Linked DNA regions of Homo sapiens. The protein of the gene in region 1 interacts with the protein of each later gene in a biochemical or structural test. Each region holds a gene or a part of one and is shown in the gene's direction. Other genes may lie near its edges. The genes, in order: CNOT1, NANOS2, TNRC6B and CNOT4.

Evidence for each region.
Region 2: the proteins of CNOT1 (region 1) and NANOS2 form a complex in vitro, tested with the Homo sapiens proteins (one study listed by BioGRID).
Region 3: the proteins of CNOT1 (region 1) and TNRC6B form a complex in vitro, tested with the Homo sapiens proteins (one study listed by BioGRID).
Region 4: the proteins of CNOT1 (region 1) and CNOT4 form a complex in vitro, tested with the Homo sapiens proteins (one study listed by BioGRID).

What each region holds. Positions count from the first base shown.
Region 1 is NC_000016.10:58,542,811-58,549,838, reverse strand, and holds part of CNOT1 (CCR4-NOT transcription complex subunit 1), read left to right. Parts: coding exon 1-120; intron 121-1,205; exon of another isoform or gene 1,206-1,340; intron 1,341-2,156; coding exon 2,157-2,273; intron 2,274-2,542; coding exon 2,543-2,653; intron 2,654-3,089; coding exon 3,090-3,167; intron 3,168-3,340; coding exon 3,341-3,518; intron 3,519-4,347; coding exon 4,348-4,478; intron 4,479-5,935; coding exon 5,936-6,232; coding exon of another isoform or gene 6,233-6,454; exon of another isoform or gene 6,455-6,686; intron 6,687-7,028.
Region 2 is NC_000019.10:45,912,710-45,919,566, reverse strand, and holds NANOS2 (nanos homolog 2), read left to right. Parts: upstream 1-4,788; 5' UTR 4,789-4,873; coding exon 4,874-5,290; 3' UTR 5,291-6,353; downstream 6,354-6,857. UniProt on the Homo sapiens protein: Plays a key role in the sexual differentiation of germ cells by promoting the male fate but suppressing the female fate. Represses the female fate pathways by suppressing meiosis, which in turn results in the promotion of the male fate.
Region 3 is NC_000022.11:40,264,899-40,271,926, forward strand, and holds part of TNRC6B (trinucleotide repeat-containing gene 6B protein), read left to right. Parts: coding exon 1-2,138; intron 2,139-5,223; coding exon 5,224-5,382; intron 5,383-7,028.
Region 4 is NC_000007.14:135,409,082-135,416,109, reverse strand, and holds part of CNOT4 (CCR4-NOT transcription complex subunit 4), read left to right. Parts: intron 1-847; coding exon 848-934; intron 935-1,677; coding exon 1,678-1,779; intron 1,780-2,496; coding exon 2,497-2,622; intron 2,623-5,461; coding exon 5,462-5,595; intron 5,596-7,028. UniProt on the Homo sapiens protein: Has E3 ubiquitin ligase activity, promoting ubiquitination and degradation of target proteins. Involved in activation of the JAK/STAT pathway. Catalyzes ubiquitination of methylated RBM15.

The sequences.
Region 1 (7,028 bases):
GTTATGAAGAGAGTCAGTATTGAGCCAAACTTTCATAGCCTGTATTCAAACTTCCTTGACACGCTGAAGAATCCTGAATTTAACAAGATGGTTCTGAATGAGACCTACAGAAACATTAAAGTAAGAGTTGGTTCTTATATTTCCTTTAATTATTGCTTTGAATTTGGAAATATTTGATTATATAGGTAGGATTTTTGCTATTTTTCCATATATATTGTCAATATTAGGTACCTCTGGAAATTGCTGTAGATTTTGTTTCTTATATGGAACTAAATTTTATGCAGAACTTAAATTTATAGGCATACCCTGTGCCTTTTCTTTGAAAGTAACCACTATTATGAATTGTTTTTGTCATGCCATGCATGATTTTAGAACTTTACCACTGTTATACATAAGCAGCATAGTATTGGTTAGCATATTCTGTATGGTGTCGCCCTCTGTACATCCTTTTCTTTTTTTTTCACTTACTTTTTTTTCTCCCCTGGATATTATTCATGATAATGATAATGCTCTTTGCTGTAGCCCCCTTTTTTTTTTTTTTTCAATTTTTTTGAGATGTGGTCTCACTCTGTTGCTTAGGCTGGAGTGCAGTGGCACGATCTCGGCTCACTGCAGCCTCCACCTCCCAGGTTCAAGCAGTTCTCTTACTTCAGCCTCCCGAGTAGCTGGGATTATAGTTGTACCGCCATGCCCAGCTAATTTTTATATTTTTAGTAGAGACGGGGTTTAATCATATTGGCCAGGCTGGTCCCGAACTCCTGACCTTAGGTGATCCACCCTCCTCGGCCTCCCAGAGTTCTGGGATTACAGGCCTGAGCCACTGTGCCCGGCCAGTCCTCTTTTTTAAAAAACAGAAAAATATAGTCTTGTAGAAAACCATTGTATGTATTTGTATTGCTGCTGGGCATTTGTGTTGTTAATCACTTAAACTATTATAAACAATGCTGTCCTGAATGTTTTCGTTTGTATCTTGTAGTATTCAAGTGCAAGATATCTTTAGACTCTAAATCTGTTTGTGGAATAGCTGTTGTCTAGGAGTCTGTGCAGTTTAAGGTCAAATTCTACTGAGCTGAGGCTTATTCAACAAAATTCAAGTATTTTAATTTCTAAACCATCATTTATTTCTTAGGAGGAAAAACTTCTAGAACCAGCATACAGCTGTGGTCATTCTTTGCTCAATAACTTGGGTCATTGGCTTAGGAACCAGCACTATATTTAAACCTGTGGATGGGAATATTCCCCATTCTTGGTTACGCTGTAGTGCAAAAGAATTCCTGGCTCTCTGTTGCACAGCTGACTTGTGCCATTCTGCTGTTGCTGTATAGAGTTAAGGAACATGGCTCTATTTCGTTTTTATTATCTGATAGCAAGGGTGGTTGGGATACATAAAAGTTTCCACATACTCTGTAGCAAAGTTTCAAGACCATGTTTTTTAAACAGAAGTTTAAATATAGCCCTAAGTCAAGAGGTACCACAGAGTAGATGGGTATATACATGTGTGCATACCTGCAGCCAAAACACTCTCCTATGTTAGTTCTGCCCCCCCTTAGAAAAACAGTAACCGGAGAATCAGTTAAATGGTTTGGGTTTTTTAGAAATTTGAAAAGAAGTATATAAACAGTATTATACTATATCTCAGAAAGTTATCTTGGTTGGCTGCAGAGATTTGTTAATGACCTGGGTATACTGAAGATTGCAATAGGAGGCTAATTTGATTATATTCCTTTGTATGCTTGCTGCCTTTAAGGACTTAAGCATGGCTATCATCCTCATTTAAATTAATTTAGCACTTCAAAATAGCTTTGTAGTTAGGTCTCTGCTTTAAACCTAGCTAAGGTTTTCAGAGTTGAAAATACTTTTCTAGGGGAGGATAGCTGGCACATAACTTTGTGTTCTTTTTGAATTTTGTGCAATGTGTTTGTACCTATTTTGAAAAAATAAAATGTAAAGACTTCTTCAAGGTAAAAATAGCACTGTTGAATCATAAACACAGCAAAATGATATTGAGAATGATATACAGAGTAATTCTACTTTGGGGCCTGTTCTTAGAAATGATGACTTGTCTTTAGGATAGGATAATGGAATTCTCAAATACTTAGTTGAGTTTTCTTTCATAAGCTTATTCTCATATCTTTCTTAATCTTACACTATTTCAGGTGCTCCTGACCTCTGATAAAGCTGCAGCCAATTTCTCAGATCGTTCTTTGCTGAAGAACTTGGGACATTGGCTAGGAATGATCACATTAGCTAAAAACAAACCCATCTTACACACTGTGAGTTTCATCTAAATGTGTAAAAATTGAGAATCTTCAGCACATTATGATTACAAGTATTGGCTGTTTGGAGCTATTTAATGATTATTGGGGTTTTGTAAGATTTTGGCCCACGTTTTGAGTTGTTAACCCCTTTTTGTAAGGCAAGGACTAGACATTATGTTGATTCCTGTTTTGGGGATAAGCTTGGCAAAATACTTTTCTTTGGTTTTGTTATACCATTTTGGGGGGTATATTCCCCGCTTTTGAAAGTATTTTTCTTATTCTAGGACTTGGATGTGAAATCATTGCTGCTAGAGGCTTATGTTAAAGGACAACAAGAATTGCTCTATGTAGTGCCCTTTGTTGCCAAAGTCTTAGAATCTAGCATTCGTAGTGTGGTGAGTAGATTTTAATATTTTATTTATGACTAATTTCTAAGCATTGCTTTGTTTTAGCATGAGGTCAAGAGATTATATTCTTAGTTCTTGTGAGGTAAAGCTAGTTAAGTCTGTTTTCCTCTATGGCACTTGGATTTCCAATTTGAGAGGCTGGGTGAAATAAGAAAGATTATAATGGTTGGCTTTGGTTTTTGGTTTTTTGTTTTGTTTTGTTTTTGAAATGTGATATAGGTGAGAAGGCTAGGGGTTTTGTTATGGCTACAGAGGTATAAGTGTTTAACTATGTTTAACTGTTTTTGGTTATTTTTTAATCCTTGTTTTTTGTTTTTTATTTGTTTGACTCCCCCCTACCCCCTTATGTTGTATTGAATTGTTTTAAATAATCCAAATTAAAGGGCACATTTTGGGCCAGCTTAACATAATAGCTTTTCTTTAGGTTTTTAGGCCACCAAACCCTTGGACAATGGCAATTATGAATGTATTAGCTGAGCTACATCAGGAGCATGACTTAAAGGTAATTTACTGCTTCCTTGTCCTCTGGAACATTCTTTGCCTTCACATTATTAAAACTTACAGTGAAGGCAGGGTATTTCGGGGGAAGTACTATAATAACTGAAAGTAGAGTATATTATGAGTAAAACTAAAGTTTTCTTTTAAAAATTCTAATCCAACTCTGGAACTGTGCAGTTAAACTTGAAGTTTGAAATCGAGGTTCTCTGCAAGAACCTTGCATTAGACATCAATGAGCTAAAACCTGGAAACCTCCTAAAGGATAAAGATCGCCTGAAGAATTTAGATGAGCAACTCTCTGCTCCAAAGAAAGATGTCAAGCAGCCAGAAGAACTCCCTCCCATCACAACCACAAGTAAGTGTGCTAATTAGTCAAGGAAGGCTTCTGTTAGCTAGGATACTATCTTAAATGGTACTTGTCCATGTATATCGCAAACTATAATTTCCCACATAATGTAGTGGTGAAACTTTGTATACGTTTTGGTGAGCCTTCTAATTATCAAGCAGAAGTAATGACTAGGCCTTGTGTTACCATCTTAGATTCCATCCTGACAGTTCATGCATATTATTAACTAAATGTGATTTAATCAGTTGCCTCTCATACCCCAGCTAGGCCAGGTTATCTCCTTTGTTGTGTGAAGTCCCAGAAATAACTGCATACTATGATGGCCTGTTAACCCCTCAAATCTGGGTATGGCCAGACCTGCTAGATCTGCCAAGGGAATGGGACTGTTTTATCTACATGAAGAAGATGGGAGAAGGGTATGGGAGTGTTGAATGATTGGGAGTTGTGGTTAGAATAAATTGAGCTTTTCTTTCTTTCTCAGTCCTCAGCAGCTGAGAATCCCCAGATAAACCTAGGAACAGGCTAGGTTGAAAACATACATTTATAATATAGACTAAGTTTATAGGACTTGGGCCTGACAATATGGCATGGCTGCTCAGTTGATTTCTGTGCTGTGGGGCACTGGCACTGACATAGTTTAACATACTTCGTGTATATCTCTGTTATAACAACAGAATTTCCCTTTCAGGGTGGGAAAAATAGGACCTGCTACATCCTTCCCTCCTCTCCCAATTTAATTCGTTTAATTAGATAATGACCACTTAATGATATTAAGCTAATTTTATAATAAAGTCAACAAATGTACTTTTTAAATCTCTTTTTATTACTTGACATTTAGCAACTTCTACTACACCAGCTACCAACACCACTTGTACAGCCACGGTTCCACCACAGCCACAGTACAGCTACCACGACATCAATGTCTATTCCCTTGCGGGCTTGGCACCACACATTACTCTGAATCCAACAGTAAGTAAACACTGCTCCATTCTCCCAGCTTCTAGTTTGTGATAAGGTAAATTTTGTTTGGCCACCTTTTCTTCAGCTCTTTGCCCTTCCCTCTGGATTCCTAGGTTGTAGAGTTTGTCAGAGAGGATGGAGATCTAGAACTGCTGTGTAGTTCAGTTGGGATTGTTCTTCTTCCCTTAAGAGATAGAGTGACTAGATGTTAGTTATATTGGTTCCTCATATCCAAACCCATGATACTAAAATTTAGCTAGCAATAAAATCACAATCTCCAGGAATTCCTTACACAGAGTAAAAGATGCTTAATGTATATCATAGCTTTTTATTTTCTTTATCTTGTCACTTTAGCCTTCTGCAGTAAGCCATTTCTTCCACCTGAAGGCTGGAAATGAGCTGATTGTGGGTGTGTATACAATTTCTAGGCTAAGATCTTGAAGTAGGACTTAGCACTTTGAGTTATGTTGTTGTGGCCTGGTTCCAGAAGGAGGTCTGATACAATATGGTCATGTAAGATGACCTCTGATCAGTCCTTTTTCCTATAGTTAGTATTTGCTTTGTACATTCAAGGGGACATTTTATTGTTATCTTTAGTCTTTTATTCTACTTAACAGAATATATAATACAGAATCAGGTGAGTGGAGTTTTCATTGTCCTTACTTTTTAGAAACTGAAAATGTTCACAAATACAAGAGTAACATTAATACATTGAACTTTTTATTAAAAGGAATTGAAAGGGTATCAGAGAAATCATTTTATCCTTGTCCCCCCATCCCCACTCCTATAGACATGGTACTTAGTTTTAGAGGGGTGGAGTGAGAGGCAGTGGGACACCTAGATCCAGAAATTGTGATTCATCTTTAGAATACTCTTAGTGTTGTGAACACTATTATATGCTAGTTTAATTTTTTTTTTTTTTAATTCAACAAGTTAAAGGGACCAAGTAAGTTTTGGGGCATAATTTACACCTGCAATAAAAGATTAGAAACAGCCTTTCAAATGAAGCCAAATACTTCAGTGGGCACTGTAAAATGCTCACTATTCTGATGAATTAATTTTAATAGTTTTTGTAAGAAGTCTTTTTTCTATAAACTTTATTCTTTTTACATTTTCCCAAGCTAGTGGAGAAGTTGCTTTCTTTTAAGAGCACTTGAGCCACAAATTTTAAATAAGCCAGCAGTGTGTCTTTAAGTAGTTAATGCATATTGTAATGAACAGTTTGTCCATTAAACTTGGATTTAAAAAAAAGACATATCTATTATTGTGTATCACAGGGTATACTGAATACATTTCCCTGTATGGAGCTCAGTTTCTGTTACCCGAATTTTCCATTGGTTAACTTTAAGTAGAAACTGGTAGTTTTTGGTTAATCTTGATTTACAAAATCATGAATGTGATTGCCAGTAGGAATTGGATTGTCTTATTTAAACAAGGTGTTGACTTTGTCCTCCCCAACCCCCCAGATTCCCTTGTTTCAGGCCCATCCACAGTTGAAGCAGTGTGTGCGTCAGGCAATTGAACGGGCTGTCCAGGAGCTGGTCCATCCTGTGGTGGATCGATCAATTAAGATTGCCATGACTACTTGTGAGCAAATAGTCAGGAAGGATTTTGCCCTGGATTCGGAGGAATCTCGAATGCGAATAGCAGCTCATCACATGATGCGTAACTTGACAGCTGGAATGGCTATGATTACATGCAGGGAACCTTTGCTCATGAGCATATCTACCAACTTAAAAAACAGTTTTGCCTCAGCCCTTCGTGTAAGTTGGCTATTTCCTTGGTATAGGTACAAAACGTATTACTGCTTGTCTGTAATAATTTTTTTCTTTGTCTATATATGGCACTGGGCGTTACCACTTATTCTTAATAATCACCATATTTGTTTGATGTCTTCCATCATTTTAGATTGTAATTCTGTGAGGCAAAGCATCATGTCTGTGTGTTTTTTTTTTTTTCTGTTATATTCTCAACACGATGTTTGACAGATAGTAGATACCCAAATATTTGTTGGTTTAAATAAATTAAGATTTAAAAAGGAAATGTGATATCTGACAATCTCATTTCTGTTAACCAGGAAGGATGAAAGCTGTTTGAGAAGGCCGATACAAAATGACTTAAAGTGATGTTGCATGTGCACACACTTTTCAAATAATTCACTTACTAGTTTTGAGTCTCAGATATCATGGTTAATAATTCAGGTATCATGATTAATAATTTGTTTACTGCTTTAATGATTTTTTTTGGTTGTTTTTTGCCTTTTTTTTAATGTTTCATGAGACAGGGTCTCACTCTGTAGCTTAGGCTAGAGTACAGTGGTGCAGTCTTGGCTCACTGCATCCTCCACCTCTGAGGTTCAACTGATTCTCGTGCTTCAGCCTCCCAAGTAGCTGGGATTACAGGCATGTGCTACCACGCCCCACTAATTTATGTATTTTTTTAGTAGAGAAGTGGCTTCACCATGTTGGCTAGGCTGGTCTCAAACTCCTGGCCTCAAGTGATCTACCTGCCTTGGCCTCCCAAAGTGCTGGGATTAGAGGTGTGAGCCACCGCGTCTGG
Region 2 (6,857 bases), on another chromosome or scaffold:
GACCCCCAGGGTCTGCTGCTTTCCCTTGGGGTCTTAGGCAGGTTCTTCGCTCACAGCGGGCTTTGCGTGCTCCTTCTACAGGGGGTGGGAGGATGTCCAAGGTCGGGGTCAAACAGTCTTGGGTTTCAGCTCCGGAGAAACACCTTTTTTTTTTTTAACATTATTTTTATTTTTAATGGTGTTTTTTTTTGTTTTTTTTTTTTTGAGGCAGAGTCTTGCTCTGTCACCCAGGCTGGAGTCCAGTGGTGCGATCTGGGCTCACTGCAACCTCCACCTCCCAGGTTCAAGCGATTCTCCTGCCTCACCCTCCCAAGTAGCTTGGATTACAGGCACCCGCCACCACACCCGGCTAATTTTTGTATTTTTAGTAGAGACCGGATTTCACCATGTTGGCCAGGCTGGTCTCTAACTCTTGACCACAAGTGATCTGCCCGCCTGAGCCTCCCAAAGTGCTGGGATTACAGGTGTGAGCCACTGTGCCCAGCCCAGACTAACACTTACTGTCCATATGACTTTGGAAAAGCTCCTGAGCCCCTCTAAGTCTCCCTTTGCTCATCTGTAAAACAGGACCATTAACAGACTATTTGACAGGATCTGGGAGGATTTACAGATGACACAGGTCGGGCCCTGAGCATGGTGCCAGCCCACAGATGCTCAGTAATGAGTGTGCCTATGATTATTGTCTCAATTGTGTCTTCATTTCATAGATGATCTTTTTTTTTTTTTTTCGAGATGAGGTCTCACTCCGTCACCCAGGCTGGAGTGCAGTGGCACGAACACAGCTCACTGAAGTCTCAGCCTCCTGGGTTCAAGCAATCCTCCTGCCTCAGGCTTCCAAGTAGCTGGGACTATAGGCATGCATCACCAGTTAACTTCTTTGTACTTTTTATAGAGACTAGGTCTTACTATGCTGCCCAGGCTGGTCTCAACCTCCTGGACTCAAGTGATCCTCCTGCCTCAACCTCCCAAAGTGCTGGGATTACAGGAATGGGAATTTGGGACAATGGATGGGGCCAAGAGAGGACCCCCAACATTATAGATAACATTTTGCAATTACCCTTTAGGACCTTGAAAATTAAACTCATAGGTAATATAGCTCACCAACATACAAATTTTATTTTATTTTATTATTTTTTTTTCCTGAGATGGAGTCTTGCTCTGTCGCCCAGGCTGGAGTGCAGTGGTGCTATCTCAGCTCACTGCAACCTCCACCTCCTGAGTTCAAGCAATTCTCCTGCCTCAGCCTCCAGAGTAACTGGGGTTACAGGTGCGTGCCACCACGCCCGGCTAATTTTTGTATGTTTAGTAGAAACGGGGTTTCACCATGTTGGCCAGGCTGGTCTGGAACTCCTGACCTCAAGTGACCCGCCTGCCTTGGTCTCCCAGAGTGCTGGAATTACAAGCGTGAGCCACTGTGCCCAGTCACAAATTTTATTTTCAAAAATGGATATCGTGTCGTGTCCTAACCAAAATATAAAGGGAAAATAAAAAGACAGTAATTTATAATAAAATAATGTCTATGTAAGTGTATAAATGCTCAGGCATGGACACTCCAAAAATCATCTGAGCAGGGCAGACACTAGCCTCTCTGTGTAGATTCACCATGAATGAGATACAAACAAATGGTATGTTGTTTGGAGACAGATACCACAAGCAGCATTGCCTTGAGTGTTGTGGCTTCTAGAATTGGTGAATAACTGAATAAAGTTCTCAGAAAAACCAAGAGCTTGAAGACCAGAATGAACACAGTGGTTGCATTCCAGGAAAAATGAGTGTTATCTTAAAATAATGCAAAAAGCACCTAGTGCTTATATATAAAACATAGCTAGGCTCTGAATTTGGATAATTATAAATGGGTTTTTCTACCTAGATGGGTGTTCAGTGGGACACTGGAAAGTTAAGTGGGGCTCAGAACAGGTCTTGGTGGTGCGAACTGCGAGATATCTGCCATCCCTGGTCCCCACCTACTAAATCCAGCCACACCTCCAATCACGGTGACAAACTCAAAACGCCCTCACCAATTCCAAAACATGCCCTAAGGGAGATTTGCAGAGTCTGAGGGTGTCCAGCCTCTGCAAATCATGCTGGCTTCATCCTGGGATCTTCACTCCATTCTAGCCACTCCAGCCCCCTTGCTGTTCCCAAATTTCAGGATGTCTTTTTTTTTTTTTTTTTTTTGAGATGGATTCTCACTCTGTCACCCTGGCTGGAGTGCAGTGGCCCTAACTCGACTCACTGCAACCTCCACCTTCTGGATTCAAGCAATCCTCCTGCCTCAGCCTCCCAAGTAGCTGGGACTACAGGCACCCACCACTGCGCCCAGCTAATTTTATTTTATTTTATTTTATTTTATTTTATTTTTTATTTTTTATTACTTTTTTTTTTTTTTTTTGAGATGGAGCCTCGCTCTGTCACCCAGGCTGGAGTGCAATGGCATGATCTCAGCTCACTGCAACCTCCGCCTCCCAGGTTCAAGCAATTCTCCTGTCTCAGCCTCCTGAGTAGCTGGGATCACAGGCACCCGCCACCACGCCAGCTAATTTTTGTATTTTTAGGAAAGACGGGGTTTCACCATGTTGCCAAGGCTGGTCTCAACCTCCTGACCTCATGATCCGCCCACCTCAGCCTCCCAAAGTGCTGGGATTACAGGCGTGAGCCACTGTGCCCATCCTGCTAATTTTTGTATTTTTAGTAGAGATGGGGGTGGTTTCACCATCTTGGCCAGGTTGGTCTCGAACTCCTGACCTCAGGTGACCCACCCACCTCGGCCTCTCAAAGTGCTGGGATTACAGGCATGAGCCACCACACCCAGCCACAGTTTCCATATCCTGTGTTCCTCTTCCTGGAAGATTCTTCTTAGTGGTCTCAGCTTCCAAGTCCCATTCCTGAGCCAGCCACTCTTAGAACACCCGGTTCACAGGCCAGCAGGTCTTTACAGTCTAGCGTTTTCTCATTTACTGGTCGCTCTCCTGAACTCGTTCATGAAGCAGGCATAAGGTAGCCTTGGTCACTGCTGAATTTCCAGCACCCAATATGGAGCCTCAGTAACTATGTGTTGAATATCAAGGTGGCCCATGGAGACTGTGGGTGGAAGAAGAACCCCAGGTGCGGTGGGCGGGAGATGAGGCTTTTGCTCGTTCCAAAGGCCAGGAAGGATTTAAGACAATGGATGGGGCCAAGAAAGGGCTATTTTTTTTTTTTTTTTAGAGAGACAGGGTTGGCCAGACGCAGTGGCTTATGCCTGTAATCCCAGCACTTTGGGAGACCGAGGCAGGTGAATCACACCTGAGGTCAGGAGTTCCAGACCAGCTTGTCCAACATGTCAAAATCCCATCTCTACTAATACAAAAAATTAGCCAGGTGTGGTGGTGGGCACCTGTAATCCCAACTACTTGTGAGGCTGAGGCAGGAGAATCACTTGAACCTGGGAGGCGGAGATTGCAGTAAGCCAAGATTGTGCCACTGCACTACAGCTTGGGTGACAGAGCAAGACTCCATCTCATAAAAAAAAAGACAGGGTCCACTCTGTAGCCCAGGCTGGACTGCAGTGGCACAATCATGGCTCACTGAAGCCTAAACCTCCTGGGCTCAAGTGATCTTCCTGCCTCAGCCTCCTCACTAGCTAGGATTACAGGCACATGCCACCATGCCCAGCTGATTTTGTATTATATGTAGAAACAGGGTCTCACTATGTTACCCAGGCTGGTCTCAAACTTCTGGCTTCAAGTGATTCTCTAGCCTCAGCCTCCCAAAATATTAGGATTACAGGCGTGAGCCAGCATGCCTAGCCCAAGAGGGGGCATTCTAAGTGAGATTGTTCTGTGCCAAGTTCCTCTGCCACTTTTAACATCAATTCCCAGTTCCCAGAGTGATTATGAAACCCGACTCTGCCATTTCCTTGTTGTGTGACCTTGGATACATTCCTTAACCTCTCCAAGCTTCATATCTTTCTCTGTAAAATGAAAATACTAGGCCGGGTGCGGTGGCTCACGCCTGTAATCCCAGCGCTTTGGGAGGCAGAGACAGGTGGATCACCTGAGGTCAGGAGTTCGAGACCAGCCTGGCCAATATGGTGAAACCCTGTCTCTGCTAAAAATACAAAAAAAAAAAAAAAAAAAATTAGCCAGGCTTAGTGGTGGGCGCCTGTAATCCCAGCTACTCAGGAGGCTGAGGCAGGAGAATCACTTGAACCCAGGAGGCAGAGGTTGCAGTGAGCTGAGATCGTGCCATTGCACTCCAGCCTGGGCGACATAGCAAGACTCCGTCTCAAGTAAATAAATAAATAAAATAAATCAGGTCATGTTGTTATTATTATTTTTGTCTTTTTATTTTTTGTAGAGACAAGGTCTCGCTATTTTGCCCACGCTGGCCTAGAGGTCCTGGGCTCAAGCGATCCTCTTTCCTCAGCCTCCCAAAGTGCCAGGATTACAGGTGTGAGGCACTGCGCCCAGCCTGGCTGCTATGATGATTAGGAATAACTCTGAAGTCTATGAAGGGTGCAGCCCCTCCAGCCTAGGGGTGGGGGATATTTGCAGACATGGACTTTCTTTGAACAGATAGGGAAACTGAGGCACAGAGAATGGAAGTGTCTTCCCAGAGGTCACAGAGCACCTTGGCAGCAGAGCTGGGACCAGAGATCAGGGGAATGACCTCCTTCCACATCTCTGTGAAGAACTAAAGTCAGATGGGGGTTATGGGCAGGGAGTGAGCCCTTTAAATCCTAAGCTCCACCTTTACTTAGAAGAGTCTCTGGGCGTTATAAAAGGGGATGCAGCTCCCTTCTGCTCTGGGAAACGCCTGCTGCTCTTGCCCTTGCCCACGGGCCCCCAGCCCCAGCCCCTCTCCTGTGGCCCACCACCCCTGCTTTGGTGCCATGCAGCTGCCACCCTTCGACATGTGGAAGGACTACTTCAACCTGAGCCAGGTGGTGTGGGCGCTGATCGCAAGTCGGGGTCAAAGGCTGGAGACCCAAGAGATTGAGGAGCCAAGTCCCGGGCCTCCGCTGGGGCAGGATCAGGGGCTGGGGGCGCCAGGGGCCAACGGGGGCCTGGGGACCCTGTGCAACTTCTGCAAGCACAACGGGGAGTCCCGCCACGTCTACTCCTCACACCAGCTGAAGACACCGGATGGCGTGGTGGTGTGTCCCATCCTGAGGCACTACGTGTGTCCCGTGTGCGGGGCCACCGGTGACCAGGCCCATACGCTCAAGTACTGCCCGCTTAACGGTGGCCAGCAGTCCCTCTACCGCCGCAGCGGGCGCAACTCGGCCGGACGCAGGGTCAAGCGCTGAGCATCGTGAGATGCTCACCACCCGCACCCCTGACCCTCCTGGTCCATCCCACCCAAGTCCCTAAACTCTCTCTTCCAGTCACCCAGCCCTTTGGAATTTCTGGCCCCCAGAACTCCACCCTGGCTGGATCCTGAAACAGTGGAGGCTGCTGGGAGCCAGGCCAGCCCCGCCCCCTTGGACCTGTCAGCCCTCGGAGCTCTGGCCTGTGGGCGTTGGCCTGAGGGTCCTTGGTGCCGCGGGAACCCTTCCTGCACGGCCCTGTAGCGCCCTCTGGGCCCCGGTTCATGGATCTTTTGTCCTCGTGGGGCCTGCTGGTGACTGGAGCCCTGCCCCTTCGACTTCTCTGTTCCTTGTGGAGTTCTTGGATTTTTGAACCTCCAGGATTCCACGGTGCTGTCCCAAGCCAGCCCTTAGGAGATACTGAACAAGGCTGGCTGAGAAGTGCCTACTCAAGAACTTCAAGATGGGATGTCGACTTAAGACCAGCCTTCTCCATCTTCAGCCTCCTGCAGAACCACGGTGTCATCGTGGACCACGCCTGTTCATTCCTTCCCTGACCTCAGTACCCATCCGTCAGGAGCGGAGTAGGACTCTGGAGAGCACCGTATCACTGGAGGGCACCGTGTCTTCGCAGGCTCACCTGTGGATGGAGAGCCGTGGGGTGAGCTGACACCTTTCAATGCCCCCTGGTTGTTCTTCCCCTTGTTCAGCCCATTGCACCCGGTACCTGCCCCCATCCCCAAATCACCGATGGGTCCTTTCCCCCAGCGAGAAGCATATCTCTCGACCACCTCCCGTCCGACCCCCCAAATCGTGATAGTTGACTAAAGGACATTTTTTTTTCCTCCTGTGTTTTTCAACCTCCAACGTTCAAGTCAAGGAACCGCCGATAAGAAGGGGGTTTGAGTACCCGGATGGGAATGGCAATGGCCTAGCTTTTATTTTAGGGGCAAAGAGAAGAAGGGCCCCCGTCAGATTTTAAGTTGTTCAGTTTTTGGCACAGGGTCGGGACCCTGAGTATTGAGCTCTGGTGAATAAAAAGGTTTTCTAGTCGTCTTTGAAATGGCTGTATCTGTTTCCGTCTTTGGTTTGTTTGTGAGACAAGGTCTTGCTCTGTCGCCCAGGCTGGAGTGCAGTGGTGCGATCTTGGCTCACTGCCCGGATTCAAGTGATTATCCTCCCTCAGCCTCTTGAATAGCTGGGACTACAGGTGCGCCCCACCACGCCTGGCTAATTTTTTTTTTTTTTTTTGAGACGGAGTTTTGCTGTTGTCGCCCAGGCTGGAGTGCAATGACGCGATCTCGGCCCACTGCAACCTCTGCCTCTCGGGTTCAAGCGATTCTCCTGCCTCTCAGCCTCCGGAGTAGCTGGGATTATAGACATGCACCACCACGCCTGGCCATTTTTGTATTTTTAGTAGAGACGGGGTGACCGAGTAGGCGGGACTACAGGTGCACGCCACCACACCCAGGTAATTTTTATTTTTGGTTTTTGTTTTTTCTTTTTTGAGATGGAGTTTCGTTCTTGCTGCCCAGGCTGGAGTGCCAATGGTGCGGTCTCGGCTCAC
Region 3 (7,028 bases), on another chromosome or scaffold:
CCCTGGCTCTGAGAAGAGCACTCTGCCAGGAAGCACCACTAGTAACAAAGGAAAAGGGAGCCAGTGCCAGTCTGCAAGTTCTGGGAACGAATGTAATCTTGGGGTCTGGAAATCTGACCCTAAGGCTAAATCTGTTCAATCTTCCAACTCTACTACAGAGAACAACAATGGACTAGGAAATTGGAGGAATGTGAGTGGTCAGGATAGAATTGGACCTGGCTCTGGCTTCAGCAACTTTAACCCAAATAGCAACCCATCTGCCTGGCCAGCACTGGTCCAAGAAGGAACTTCTAGGAAAGGGGCATTGGAAACAGATAATAGTAATTCCAGTGCACAGGTTAGCACAGTAGGTCAGACATCCAGGGAACAGCAGTCAAAGATGGAAAATGCGGGTGTTAATTTTGTTGTCTCTGGCAGAGAACAGGCTCAAATTCATAACACTGATGGACCAAAAAATGGAAACACTAACTCCTTGAACTTAAGTTCACCAAACCCCATGGAGAATAAGGGAATGCCCTTTGGAATGGGCTTGGGGAACACCTCCAGGAGCACTGATGCCCCTTCACAAAGCACTGGAGATCGAAAGACTGGGAGTGTTGGATCTTGGGGTGCAGCTAGGGGGCCTTCTGGAACTGACACAGTCTCTGGACAAAGCAATTCTGGAAACAATGGGAACAATGGAAAAGAGAGAGAGGACTCCTGGAAAGGAGCTTCTGTTCAGAAATCAACTGGGTCAAAAAATGACTCTTGGGACAACAATAACAGGTCTACGGGTGGGTCCTGGAACTTTGGCCCCCAGGACTCTAATGACAACAAATGGGGTGAAGGGAACAAAATGACATCTGGGGTCTCTCAGGGAGAATGGAAACAGCCGACTGGGTCTGATGAGTTGAAAATTGGAGAATGGAGTGGTCCAAACCAACCAAATTCTAGCACTGGAGCATGGGACAATCAAAAGGGCCACCCCCTCCCTGAAAACCAAGGCAATGCCCAGGCTCCCTGTTGGGGAAGATCTTCCAGCTCCACAGGAAGTGAAGTTGGAGGTCAAAGCACTGGAAGCAACCACAAAGCAGGAAGTAGTGACAGTCATAACTCTGGCCGTCGGTCGTACAGGCCCACACATCCTGATTGTCAGGCTGTCTTGCAGACTCTTTTGAGCCGAACTGATTTGGACCCCAGGGTGCTCTCAAACACTGGCTGGGGCCAAACTCAAATTAAGCAGGACACAGTGTGGGACATTGAAGAGGTGCCAAGGCCTGAGGGGAAATCTGACAAAGGAACTGAGGGGTGGGAGAGCGCTGCCACACAGACCAAGAACTCAGGGGGCTGGGGAGATGCACCCAGCCAAAGCAATCAAATGAAGTCTGGATGGGGGGAGCTCTCAGCCTCTACAGAGTGGAAAGACCCCAAGAACACAGGAGGCTGGAATGACTACAAGAACAACAACTCTTCCAACTGGGGAGGAGGACGACCTGATGAAAAGACACCTTCCTCTTGGAATGAGAATCCCAGCAAGGATCAGGGGTGGGGAGGTGGACGCCAGCCCAATCAAGGATGGTCTTCTGGAAAGAATGGTTGGGGGGAGGAAGTCGATCAGACAAAAAACAGCAATTGGGAAAGTTCTGCAAGTAAACCTGTGTCTGGGTGGGGTGAAGGAGGGCAGAATGAAATCGGGACTTGGGGTAATGGTGGCAATGCAAGCCTAGCTTCAAAAGGTGGGTGGGAGGATTGCAAAAGATCCCCAGCATGGAATGAGACGGGCCGACAGCCCAATTCCTGGAATAAACAACACCAACAGCAGCAGCCCCCACAGCAGCCGCCGCCACCACAACCAGAGGCTTCTGGTTCGTGGGGAGGCCCACCCCCACCACCTCCAGGCAACGTTCGACCTTCCAATTCCAGCTGGAGCAGCGGGCCACAGCCTGCAACACCTAAGGATGAGGAACCCAGTGGTTGGGAAGAGCCATCCCCACAGTCAATTAGTCGGAAAATGGACATTGATGATGGCACTTCAGCATGGGGAGACCCTAACAGTTATAACTACAAGAATGTGAATCTGTGGGATAAGAATTCCCAAGGGGGCCCAGCACCTCGAGAACCAAACCTGCCCACCCCAATGACCAGTAAATCGGCATCAGGTAAGCAGTGGCTTTCTCTTGCAGCTTTTGATGAAGAAAAGGAATCCTAGACCAAGGCATTTTTATTAGGTGAATTTATTCAACTTAGTTTTGTTCTGAGATGCTTTCCTACAGTTTCTACTCTGTTGCTAACAGAACCTCTTTTTATGAAATGCTAGTGATGGCAGATGCTGGTAGTACATTTTAATGTTCTTTCTTGGCAAAAGGAAAAGATGACAACCCTGTGTTAGTCCCCAAAATTATTTTTCTGTAATTGTATTGGTCTGCAGAATCCAAAAGACATATCTTGCCAAACAAACTATGTTCTAGATTTTAAAATAAAGAATTAAAGTAGTAGCAGAAATAGACCTGATTTCCATTCTGGTTCTACCCATGGACATGTCTCTGCTTCTGTTTCCCCAGCAAAGGGAAATAATTCTGTGTTTTTCCAAAGGCCATGATGATGCTGAAGCAAAGCTGGATCTGGAAGGTTTCAGTCTCTTTCTGGATGATTTTTAATGATTACCTCTGGAATGGGAGTACTTTGTATAAGAGATTGTTATCTCAGTCCTAGTGAGATGGCTCACACCTGTAATCCCAGCACTATGGGAGACTAGGGCAGGAGGATCCCTTGAGCCCAGGAGTTTGAGACCAGCCTGGGCAACCTAGAGAGACTTCAGTCTCTACAAAAATATTTTTTAAAAATCAGACGGGTGTGGTGCATGTGCATATAGTCCCACCTACTCTAGAGGCTGAGGTAAGAGGATCGCCTAAGCCCTGGAGATGGGAGGCTGTAGGGAGCTATGATCTCACCACTGCACTCCAGTTTGGGAGACAGAGCGAGACCCTGTTGCCAAAAAAAAAAGAGCGATTGTTAGGATAGTCAGTTGCCCAGAATTAAACTTTCTTCCGTCACTATTTGAATAGGAAACATCATACCTGGTAAAAGTAGCAATGGTAATGCCATTCTTAGTTTGTCATTGTCAACTTGAATGTCCCTATAGAGCATATAGTTCAACAAATTAAGGGGGATGCACCTTTCAGTCTTTTTTTAGTTAAAATTAATATTAAGAACCAGTTTTCTTTTTTTGAGACAGAGTCTCACTCTGTTGCCCAGGCTGGAGTGCAGTGGCACGATCTCGGCTCGCTATAACCTCCGTGCCAAGTTCAAGTGATTCTCTTGCCTCAGCCTCCTGAGTAGTTGGGATTACAGGCACCCACTGCCATGCCCAGCTAATGTTTGTATTTTTAGTAGAGACAGGATTTCACCATGTTGGCCAGGGTGGTCTCAGACTCCTGACCTCAGGTGATCCACCCGCCTCAGTCTACCAAAGTGCTGGGATTACAGGCATGAGCCACTGTGCCCAGCCAAGAATCAGTTTTCTCCGAGTACACCTCTAGTGTTCAGCTAATCCATTTGTGGCCTCTTAGAAAAATGATTACTTTTAACTCATTCTTTTTTCAAGTATTGAAAAGAATGAGGAAGGAAATGAAGATTTCTCACTGGCTCCCCATGCAGAATAAAACCTGCTAAAATTTTAAAAAGCTACATCCACATAGCAAAAACCTTCAAACTGTGTGGAAAAGCAAAAGATAGTCAATAAAATAATCTTTGGCCAGGCGCGGTGGCTCACGCCTGTAATCCCAGCACTTTGGGAGGCCGAGGCGGACAGATCATGAGGTCAGGAGATCGAGACCATCTTGGCTAACACGGTGAAACCCCGCCTCTACTAAAAAATCGAAAAAATTAGCCAGGCGTGGTGGCGGGCACCTGTAGTCCCAGCTACTCGGGAGGCTGAGGCAGGAGAATGGGGTGAACCCAGGAGATGGAGCTTGCAAGTGAGCTGAGATCACGCCACTGCACTCCAGCCTGGGCGACAGAGCAAGACTCCGTCTCAAAAAATAATAATAATAATAATAATAATAATAATCTTAACCCCTAGGGTCTCTTCCCAAAGGTAATCTCTTAGAAGTTTGTGTCCCATTCAAAAATTTTACAGAGAAGGGATTGTACTTCGTATACTGTTCTTCACCTTGCTTTTCTCATTATACTTATAGCTTCCAATTTTAGCACATAGTCTGCTGCTTAATTGCTTCATATACAGTATTTCTTTTTTTTTTTTTTTTTTTTTTTTTTTGAGAGGGAGTCTCACTGTCTCCCAGGCTGGAGTGCAGTGGCGCAATCTTGGCTCACTGCAACCTCCACCTCCCGGGTTCAAGTGAGCCTCCTTCTCAGCCTCCCGAATAGCTGGGATTACAGGCATGCGTCGTCACGCCCAGCTAATTTTTGTATTTTTTGCTGGAGATGGGGTTTTGCCATGTGGGTCTGGCTAGTCTTGAACTCCTGACCTCAGGAGATCCACCCGCCTTGGCTCCTAAAGTGCTGGGATAACAGGCGTGAGCCATTGTGCCTGGCCTTTACACAGTACTTCTTTTATGGGTGACCCACAATTGGTCTAACCAGTCCCCTTGTGGTGGATATTTAGGTTGTTTCCAAATTTTTTCTATCAGTGATGCGGTGAGTATTGTTATACATGTAATTTCACCTATTTTTACAAGTATATTTATGGTATAATTTTCTGGCAGCCTGGGCATGATGGCTCATGCCTGTAATCCCAGCACTTTGGGAGGCTGAGCCAGGCAGATCACAAGGTCAGGAGTTTGAAGCCAGCCTGGCCAATGTGGTGAAACCCTGTCTCTACTTAAAAAAAAAAATACAAAAGTTAGCTGGGTATGGTGGCACACGCCTGTAATCTCAGCTGCTCGGGAGGCTGAGGCAGGAGAATCGCTTGAACCTGGGAGGTGGAGGTTGCCATGAGCCAAGACCACGGCATTGCACTCCAGCCTTGGGGATGGAGCAAGACTCTGTCTCAAAAAAAAAAAAAAAAAAAAAATTCCTGGCAGTTGAGTTACTGGGTGAAAAGTTTAATGTGCATCGGATTTTTTAAAAAGTAGCATTGCCAAATACCCCTCACATGAAAGTTGAATCTATTTACATTTCTACCAACAGAATATAGGCATGCCTGTTCCTTCCACCTTCACCCCACTGGATATTATGGCATTTCATTTAACAAATGATTCTTAGAGACATTTCCTTTCTTTATAGTCTGGAGCAAAAGCACACCACCTGCTCCAGATAATGGTACTTCCGCTTGGGGTGAGCCAAATGAAAGCAGTCCTGGGTGGGGCGAGATGGATGATACAGGAGCATCGACCACAGGCTGGGGGAACACGCCCGCCAACGCTCCCAATGCCATGAAGCCTAGTAAGTGTGAAGCTTTTCATTTTTGAGGGATCCTTTTTTTTTTTTTTTTTTAATTGAGACGGAGTTTCACTCTTGTCCACCCAGGCTGGAGTGCAGTGGTGCAATTTCGGCTCACTGCAACCTCTGCTTTCCAGCTTCAAGCGATTCTCCTGCCTCAGCCTCCCGAGTAGCTGGGATTACAGGCGCCCGCCACCACGCCCGGCTAATTTTTGTATTTTTATTAGAGATGGGGTTTCTCCATGTTGGTCAGGCTGGTCTTGAACTCCTGTCCTTGTGATCCACCCGCCTTGGCCTCCCAAAGTCCTGGGACTACAGGCGTGAGCCACCGTGCCCGGCCGGGATTCTTTGTTAAATGTTTGTCAAATGTCAGATTTGAGAATCTGACATTTTGGTGAGGGCTGTTTAGTTTTAAGCTGTTGATTCAATGAGATTCAGGACCTTGAGTGTTAAATAATTAGTTAATAGCAAACGGTTGTGGCTTGGCTTGGCGTTTCTTAAAATGTTTAAGGTGAATTAAAAATCATAAGTTAATTTTGTTTTAAATTTAGTATCTGGACAGAATTATAATTTTGATGTGATGCTCTTTTAGCCCAGTGACTATGTGCTCACCATATCTAGCTTGCATTTCTACTTGTTAGTATAATTTAAAACAAGAGTTCCTGGCTTTTAATGTGGAACACGATCTGTGCTGCCCAGTGACTTCATCCTTCTGCACCTTCCTTTGCCGTTGTCTCTCTTCCACATAAGAGCATTTCAGATTTTTTAAACCTGGCATAAATTTCACTTCAATTTTTTAAATGAAGAACGTCACACTTATTCAGAATCATTGAAAATCTAAAATCTAAGCTGTACTTGATCCAGCTGGTGATGTGTGGTCACAGTAATGAGCAGAACTCTGTGGACTGAGGCTATGGAATGTCTCATTGACTGTTGCTAAATTCAGGTGCCTGTTTACACTTACTTTTGTAACTTTCTTTAAAATGTTCCAACATCTCTTTTCTACCATATAGAAGCAGATTTAAGGGATTATCTTTTGATTAAATAATGAACATTTCTGGAATGACCAAAATTCAAACAAGAAGATAAATTCTGTTAAGTTTATCACATTATATTCAGTACTCTTACAGTGCCACATAAGGGAATGTGATATTAGCTCTATTCTGGAAATTCACATGTGTGTATATGTAGTAATTTGACTACATTTTAAAAATCATGAATCTCCTCGACCTCATTAAAATAGTTAGCTTTATGAAAATTTTGTTTTTATCATTATTTCTATTGTGAAATCAGTCGTATCATCATGGGAAATGTAATCTAGTAGACTTGAAATAGACCCAAAATGCTGCAAGAAGATGTTAATCAGACCCTGGGCACAAAGAGATCCTTTAGCAGTATATTCAGGATTTTCATGTGTCTTTCCCAACCTCAGGATCACCTCTCTTCTATCACAAAACCACTTTTCCTCAGATTCTAAAAATGTCTTCTACTCTTCAGGATCATCTGTAGTTATAGCACACATCCTTTCTGTGGGTAAGTTAAATGTGTAATGTGCGGAAGAAAGGGCTAAACCATCATAGTCTACCAGTTGATGGAGACAGTTACCCTGTGATCTTCTGTAGCCTGTCTTAAATTTGATGTTATGAATC
Region 4 (7,028 bases), on another chromosome or scaffold:
GATACATTCTAGGAAAACAGAATTTTGAGGTAGTTGCAAATTATGTGAGATGTCTTTTTATCAAGTTACATACCGGTCAAATTAGCCAAGGTTAAGTTTGTAAGAGAAGCTGAAAGAATGCATATAGTGTTCACAAAGTAAAGGAGATGAGGTACGTAGGTACCACCAAGAAGTAACCAGGTAATAAAGAAAGAAACGTGTAAATTTGTTTCCGAAATGTTACGTACCAGGAAAAGTAGGGGAAAAAGCCTCATGAGACAGATGAGAAATGGTAAAACTGATTGACATAGGAAACTGTATGCACAATGATAAATCATAAAGCATAGAGGGTTGAGTGGGCACTCTGTTACTTGAAATTTGTGATTTATAAACAGTGTTATATGCAATAGATTTATGAGTAAAGACTGTCTTTATGTCTGTTCTTTCAATTCTGTCTTTACCTTTAATACATAATTTTGGTCATTGTTTTTGAAGAATTGCTTTCGTGTAAGGATCATCTCTTAATGGCAATGTAGTTAAGATCTTTGATCTGTTTTGTGTTTAAGAATACTGTACAGGTAAGATCCCATAGACTATTGGAGCAGTTATTAGAACATAGTAGATAATACCAAATTTAGTGAGTCTCAGTTTCTATTCAGTGGGTCAAGAAAAAAAATAGCTTTTAAACTCTTTTGATTTCCTATAGGTTAGCTACACAAACTGCAATTAGGAGGTAGTGACATTTATTAGAAAACTTTAAAAATTATCTTTTTCCTTTTGCTGAAGAGGGATGATGAATGTCTCCATTATAAGGATAAAGTTGTTTAAAATGGGGACAGTTTATACCTTATTTCTTCTTCTTTTATAGGTTTTAAAACGACCAGAATATTTTGGGAAGTTTGGTAAAATACATAAAGTTGTCATCAATAATAGCACATCATATGCAGGCTCACAGGTAACTAATTTTAGGGATTTTTGCTTTTCCTCCCTATGGTCTGGGCTTGACCTGGGCTGTTCCAAAGGAAACTTTGCTCTCTCTGATTAGAAAGCTTGAGGGACAAGGACTTAAGCAATGTAGTGACCTCTGTTGGTGGGGTGGGGGATTTTTTGCTGCTTATTTGACCCTTCTAGGACTTAACAATTAAGAGGGAAATAGTAAAACAAACATTTAGTGATGGAGTGAAAGGGAGGGGGAGGTGAGTCTGTTATCAGGCAATGTGATAAATAGATGAGGATTCGATAGTGATTTCTAATCTGTAATATTTTCAGATATTGAAAACTTAATAGTGTCTTTGTTATGCTGCTGTTATCAGATAGAATAGTTTTCCAGATTGCATTTATTTTTGAGAATGTAATTTGACATAGTCTTTAAGTCTTATTTTTTAATCTAAATTTTAATTTTTTTATAACCTTGACGAGCCTGTCAAATGACTGTCTAAAAAAATAAATCCCAAGCCAAAGTAATATTTTATTCACATATATTACAGTATTCTTAAAATCAGATAAAATTCATTGAGTATTATTACTTTCAAATGAGCTAGTTTAGTGTTTAATCAAAACTGCCACTACTACTACTAATTATTGTCATTAGTAATAGTAGTAGTCAGGGTCTTTAGAATTCCCTAGGTTGCAGTAGAATTTTTTTAGTATTGTTTAATTTTTAACTAATAACAGTGGAATGGGATGTTTTCACTTTAGGGTCCAAGTGCCAGTGCTTATGTAACCTATATCCGGTCAGAAGACGCTCTCAGAGCCATACAGTGTGTCAACAATGTGGTAGTAGATGGCAGAACACTTAAGGTAATATAGTCCTCTTGATTCTTTTTTTTTTTTTTAAGGAAGACGAGATAAAATATAGTAAGTAGAGGAGAACTGAGCATTTATATATTAAATTTGACAGTTAATTTGAAGAGTCTGTCTTAGGGTCCATACCATCTATTATAGCTAATTTGTTTACTGCTGGTTTCTGTAGGGTCCTCTTTTACCAGATAGGAATAAACACATTCATTATCGGGGATAATCTTTTAAAATATCGCATTTTTACATATATCTTATTTTGTGAAAATAGTACCATTATTTTCTTCAGAAATAGGTAGTCCTTAAATATATGGACATTGATTCCAGTTTCAGTGAAGAGTCCCACTAAGCAAAGCTTTACTGTTAGTGGAAGGAGGATGGCATAATTAGAAAAAGGAATTTGCCTTCTTATGTGTCTAACCACTCATAACATGGAACAGATTTTTTTGTCTATCTCCTCTCCTTATATCTAGGGAAGATTTGGGTGTCCAAGTTTTGGAAACCATAGACAGATGTTTCCTTTAGTTCTTCCAAATGAGCCTCATCTATAATAAATCCTGCTAATAAGAGTTTAGTTCTCTAGTATTTGCAGCCATACTTTTTGTTTTGTCATGTTTGTGCCTCATTTTAGGTGACTTGAAAACACTAAACATGGAGATTCTCATTGTGTTGTCAGTTCACATTGAGTCTTCTTTTCCTTTACCCCTCTTCCTCCTGCAGGCATCTCTAGGTACAACAAAATACTGCAGTTACTTCTTAAAGAATATGCAGTGTCCAAAACCTGACTGCATGTATCTTCATGAATTGGGGGATGAGGCGGCCAGCTTCACAAAAGAGGAAATGCAGGTAGTAAAGTCATGTGAATTATCAACTTTGCAGAAAAGGGAGTACTTTTTTTTTTATTAGTTAACATTGCAAAAGCAAAAACTAAGGATTTGATTTTGTAAAAACTGATATTACTTTAAAGTAGCATTTGCCAAATGAAGTGTTTAATGGAAGGTCAGTTCTGCAGGATATTGTTACAATAAAAATGTGTCTGTGGTCAACTAAGTTTGAAATGCTAGATTAATGAAGATGAACAGGTTTCTTTGCTTTAAGACTTTTCAGAGTCCTTAATATGCTAATACAGATCCACGAAGGGAATTTACAACCAGAACTTAGTTGACCAGGAAAACACTTTGGGAAATGCTATTTTAAGGGGAATGTCAACAAAATGAAAGCTAAGTGGGATATTGTAATTATTTGTTAAACCAATCTATACTCTTTACAGAGCTTGCTAGAAAATAATACTCTGTCAAATGATGCTGATAAACTAATATTATTTTTACAAAATTATTCTCCCCATGCAAGTGTCCACTGAGTCAGTATCCTGTAAAGGGTGAATTGAAGGCTTAATATCCTATGTTCTTTTTTACATTTCCTCTTCTCCTGTCTCCTTTCAATTTGTAGTATAAACATGCCTTAACAAGTAAAAATGTTGACCATACGACATATTAAATGAGGATTATACCAAAGCACAATGCTGCACTTCCCTATTGTAGATGAGGACTTCAGATTGTTGCTGTGGACTTTTCAGGAATACTTCTCATTTAGAAGGTGGGGGGCATTCATTGCTACCTTTCATTCTCCAGGTCAAACTAGAGAAAGTCTGGTAGGGGCTCCTTTAAGAAAAGATTGTTAAATGGAGTATTACCTTTTTTGACTTGGAGCTAGTACAGATTAAATCCCATTATAATAAATACATCAGAGTTTTCTTGATAGTATGGTCTTTATGATTCAAAAACAATGTTAAAATAAGGTCTATCTGATATTTAATAAGGACAGATGACTTAACTGATTTCTTAATGCTTTTTTTGTTTGTTTTTTGGATGAAACCTTCTTGAATGAAATCTAAGGTAGAACCATTTCAAAATTTCAAACTAAATTTTAATTAGTAGAGGGTATACTTTATTCATATTTCCTATCAATTTCTGTCTATCAGAATTTACAAGTCCCACCCAGTTGATCTCATTTAAAGTAATATTAAACAATAAAATAAAATGTATGGGCTGTCCTTTGGAACTTGTTTGTAATGGGATTTAACCTGTCTTTATGAACTGCCCCTGTAGAGTCATTTTAATATCAAGTTGAGCTCTTTGTGGCTTTCCACAGATATTAGTGAAAGCCGTATCTCCTGAAGTATTGATTCCAGAAATAATTTTCAAGACTTTTCATGTTTTAAAAATGTAAATTTCACATCTAATGTATTTTTAAAAATAATTTAAAACTAATTTCATAATGTTGTCCTGAATTTATCTTGCTCTTCTTTAGCTGAGTTTAAAATTACTTTAAAAGGGGATTTTTTGTTGTTGTTGTTAAAACACTTTCTTGATGTAGGAAAGAAATTTGAATAAATTTTATGGCAAAAATCAGAAAATCTTTCCTTGTTACTGCGTAACTCAAAATTTAGTGCCATAGGAAATATTTATAGGTCCAATAGAAACAAGCAAGTGGCCTCTCAGAACAGGGAACGATGCATTGTGCAGTATATATGACACAATTATGCTCAGTTAAGTGCAATTGCCCTCACTTGTTATTGTTTTGATTTGTTCCGTTTTGGTTTTGTTGTATAACATCTATTTAGACCATAATTTAAAAAAATTAACATCCCTGAAGGTAAGTAAAACTATTCTTCCAGTCTAGATATACATGCAAATAGTAAAATGTTACTCAAAGTAAGTTCATTATCATTTATTTTTGTGTCTAATTAGCTTCCACAGGCAATCTTTGCCTAATTTTTCCCATAATATTTGTGACATTGCCTTTTGATGTACACCTACCCAGCTAGAGTAAGCATAGCATTCTTTTGTGTATAGAGCAGAGGTTGGCAAACTTTTTCTGTAAAGGCCAGTTAGTAAATATTTTAGGGTTTCTGAGCTATGTATGTAGTCTTCTGTCACAACTACTTTACTCTGCCTCTGTTGCACTACTACATCCTGCCTTTGTAGCAGAATGGCAGCCAAATACAATATGTAAATGAATGGGCATGACCATGTTCCAGTAAAACTTTATTTATAAAAACAGGCAACTGGCTGTAAATTGCTGACCCTGGGTCTAGAGTTTAAAATACATTAATTTTTATTTTACTTTTGATAACCATAGAAGAAAAGAGAAAGCAAAAACTAATTCATGGAAGTTTTACTTAGTGTCAAGATAATGAAGAATATAGTAAAACTGTTCATCTATGTATTACTTCAAGTGCTAATCTCCAAATTAAAAAGGAGACTGATGAATTTTGGCTGATTTTCAGAAAACTCAGTGTTACAAGACTTAATTCTTACATGAAAGACTTGGAAGTAGGTTTAAAGTGGACCTTACACTTTTTGAGCTAGCAAAAATGTTCTTCCCTTAATATGCTTTTCTGTACAATAAATGGGTTGATGAAATGCCTTAATTTAATTTATCAGATATATATCATATAATTTTGTTGGAATGACTTTCATTGATCTAGAAGTTTTGTGATATCCTCACAGGTTTCTCTTACTTGTTTTATTTAAAAATTTATTTAAAATTTATTTAATATTTTATTTTTTAAAAATATTATTTATTTTATTTAAAATATATTTAATAATTCAGAAGATTATTCAGTATTTTATACCAGCCATTTTGTGAATCCCACTGCAGTTTTAATTTCTTCTTTCGTTAGGCGGGTAAACACCAAGAATATGAACAGAAGCTACTTCAAGAATTATATAAATTAAATCCCAATTTTCTTCAGCTATCTACGGGTTCAGTTGATAAAAATAAGAACAAAGTGACACCACTGCAGAGGTACGATACGTAAGTATTGATATTGATAGTCAGACATCTTACCTTCTTATCAGTTGATCTTCTCTTTTCATTTTAGATCTTTTTCAGGCAAAATCCTTGTTGACAAGGTCTGTCATTTATGCAGAATTGTTTAGCTGTATGGGAAATGTTGAGTCACAATTTCTGGGTTTGAATGCTTGCTGCCTACTTTTCCCTGGTAACACTTCAGACTAGCTTTTTGATGGGTTCACCTTTTGTGGTGATTTGCAGACTACTCTGAGCCCAGGGAATACTTTCCTTATTAAAGAGAAAATTAAGGGATTTTAGGTTTTAAAAGGCTCTGATTACCTAATTGAGGTCCCCCTTGATATAATTAGGGGGAAAATACTATAAAAGGGAAAGTGGGTGTTATCTGAAGGAAGCCTTGTGTGTTGGGGACACAGATATTCAAGGATATCTAGTTCCAGGAATCACTAAAGTCATTTAAATCCTGTAAATGAACAGGGAGTATCCCATATTCAGAATCTTACTTATCTTAGGAGACCAGTCATCTCCTATCTTCCATCTCATTATGGTTTTGGGTAAACTATATTGTGTCAATGCTTAAATAAATTTATGGTCTTCAGTAGAGAGTCTCATTCTGATATGTTGATCTTCTTATCTTAGATTATATTTTGTTATGGCCTGTCAGAAAATCATATTAATAAATATAATTTGGGAATTTTATTCTATCCTGAACTTTCTTTAAATTTGATGTGTTAGGTTTTTTGTTCTTTTTTATTTGATAAGTTTAACTTTTATCAAATGAATTTTAAAAGTAAATGTTGTAATTAATTTATGTTGATGATCTTTTTTTAAAATTCCAAAGTTAAATTTGTTTGAATGTTGTCCTAATGTCTAGGTGTTAAATATTATAGCCCAGTGTCTGTTTGGTGCTAAAATGATGTAAGAACTATTTTCAAACATAGCTAATAATAACTACATGGATTATTGTTTGAGTCCATTTCTTCAAAAACACATTCTTTAAATTTTGAAGTCTGTGTTTATTCATTTTAAGAGTAAAGATTATTTAAATTATTAAAAACTAAATTAGACACATATATATGTGTATGTAAATATAAATAAATATAAAATAGGCCACAAAGCGAAACATAAAGTTACTGTATAGTAAACTATGTAAAATTTGTTTATATCAAAGCTAAGAATAAAAGCTAAGTCAAAACAGATCTTTCTGGTTTGACAAGCTTTGATCTTTTCCTTTAATCTTTTGTACCCACCCTTTTCTAGCCCTGTATGGTTATTTTATGGCAAACCATATGCTATTACTTATCTTATTCGTTGCCACCTCTGTAGTGCTTGGTATAAGAATGAAGTTATTGTAGTAAACAGTGGTTTATTTTAGATGCTTTTAACATTTATGCACATCATTGTTTGCATTAAAAATGTTGTCATTCTAATTTAAG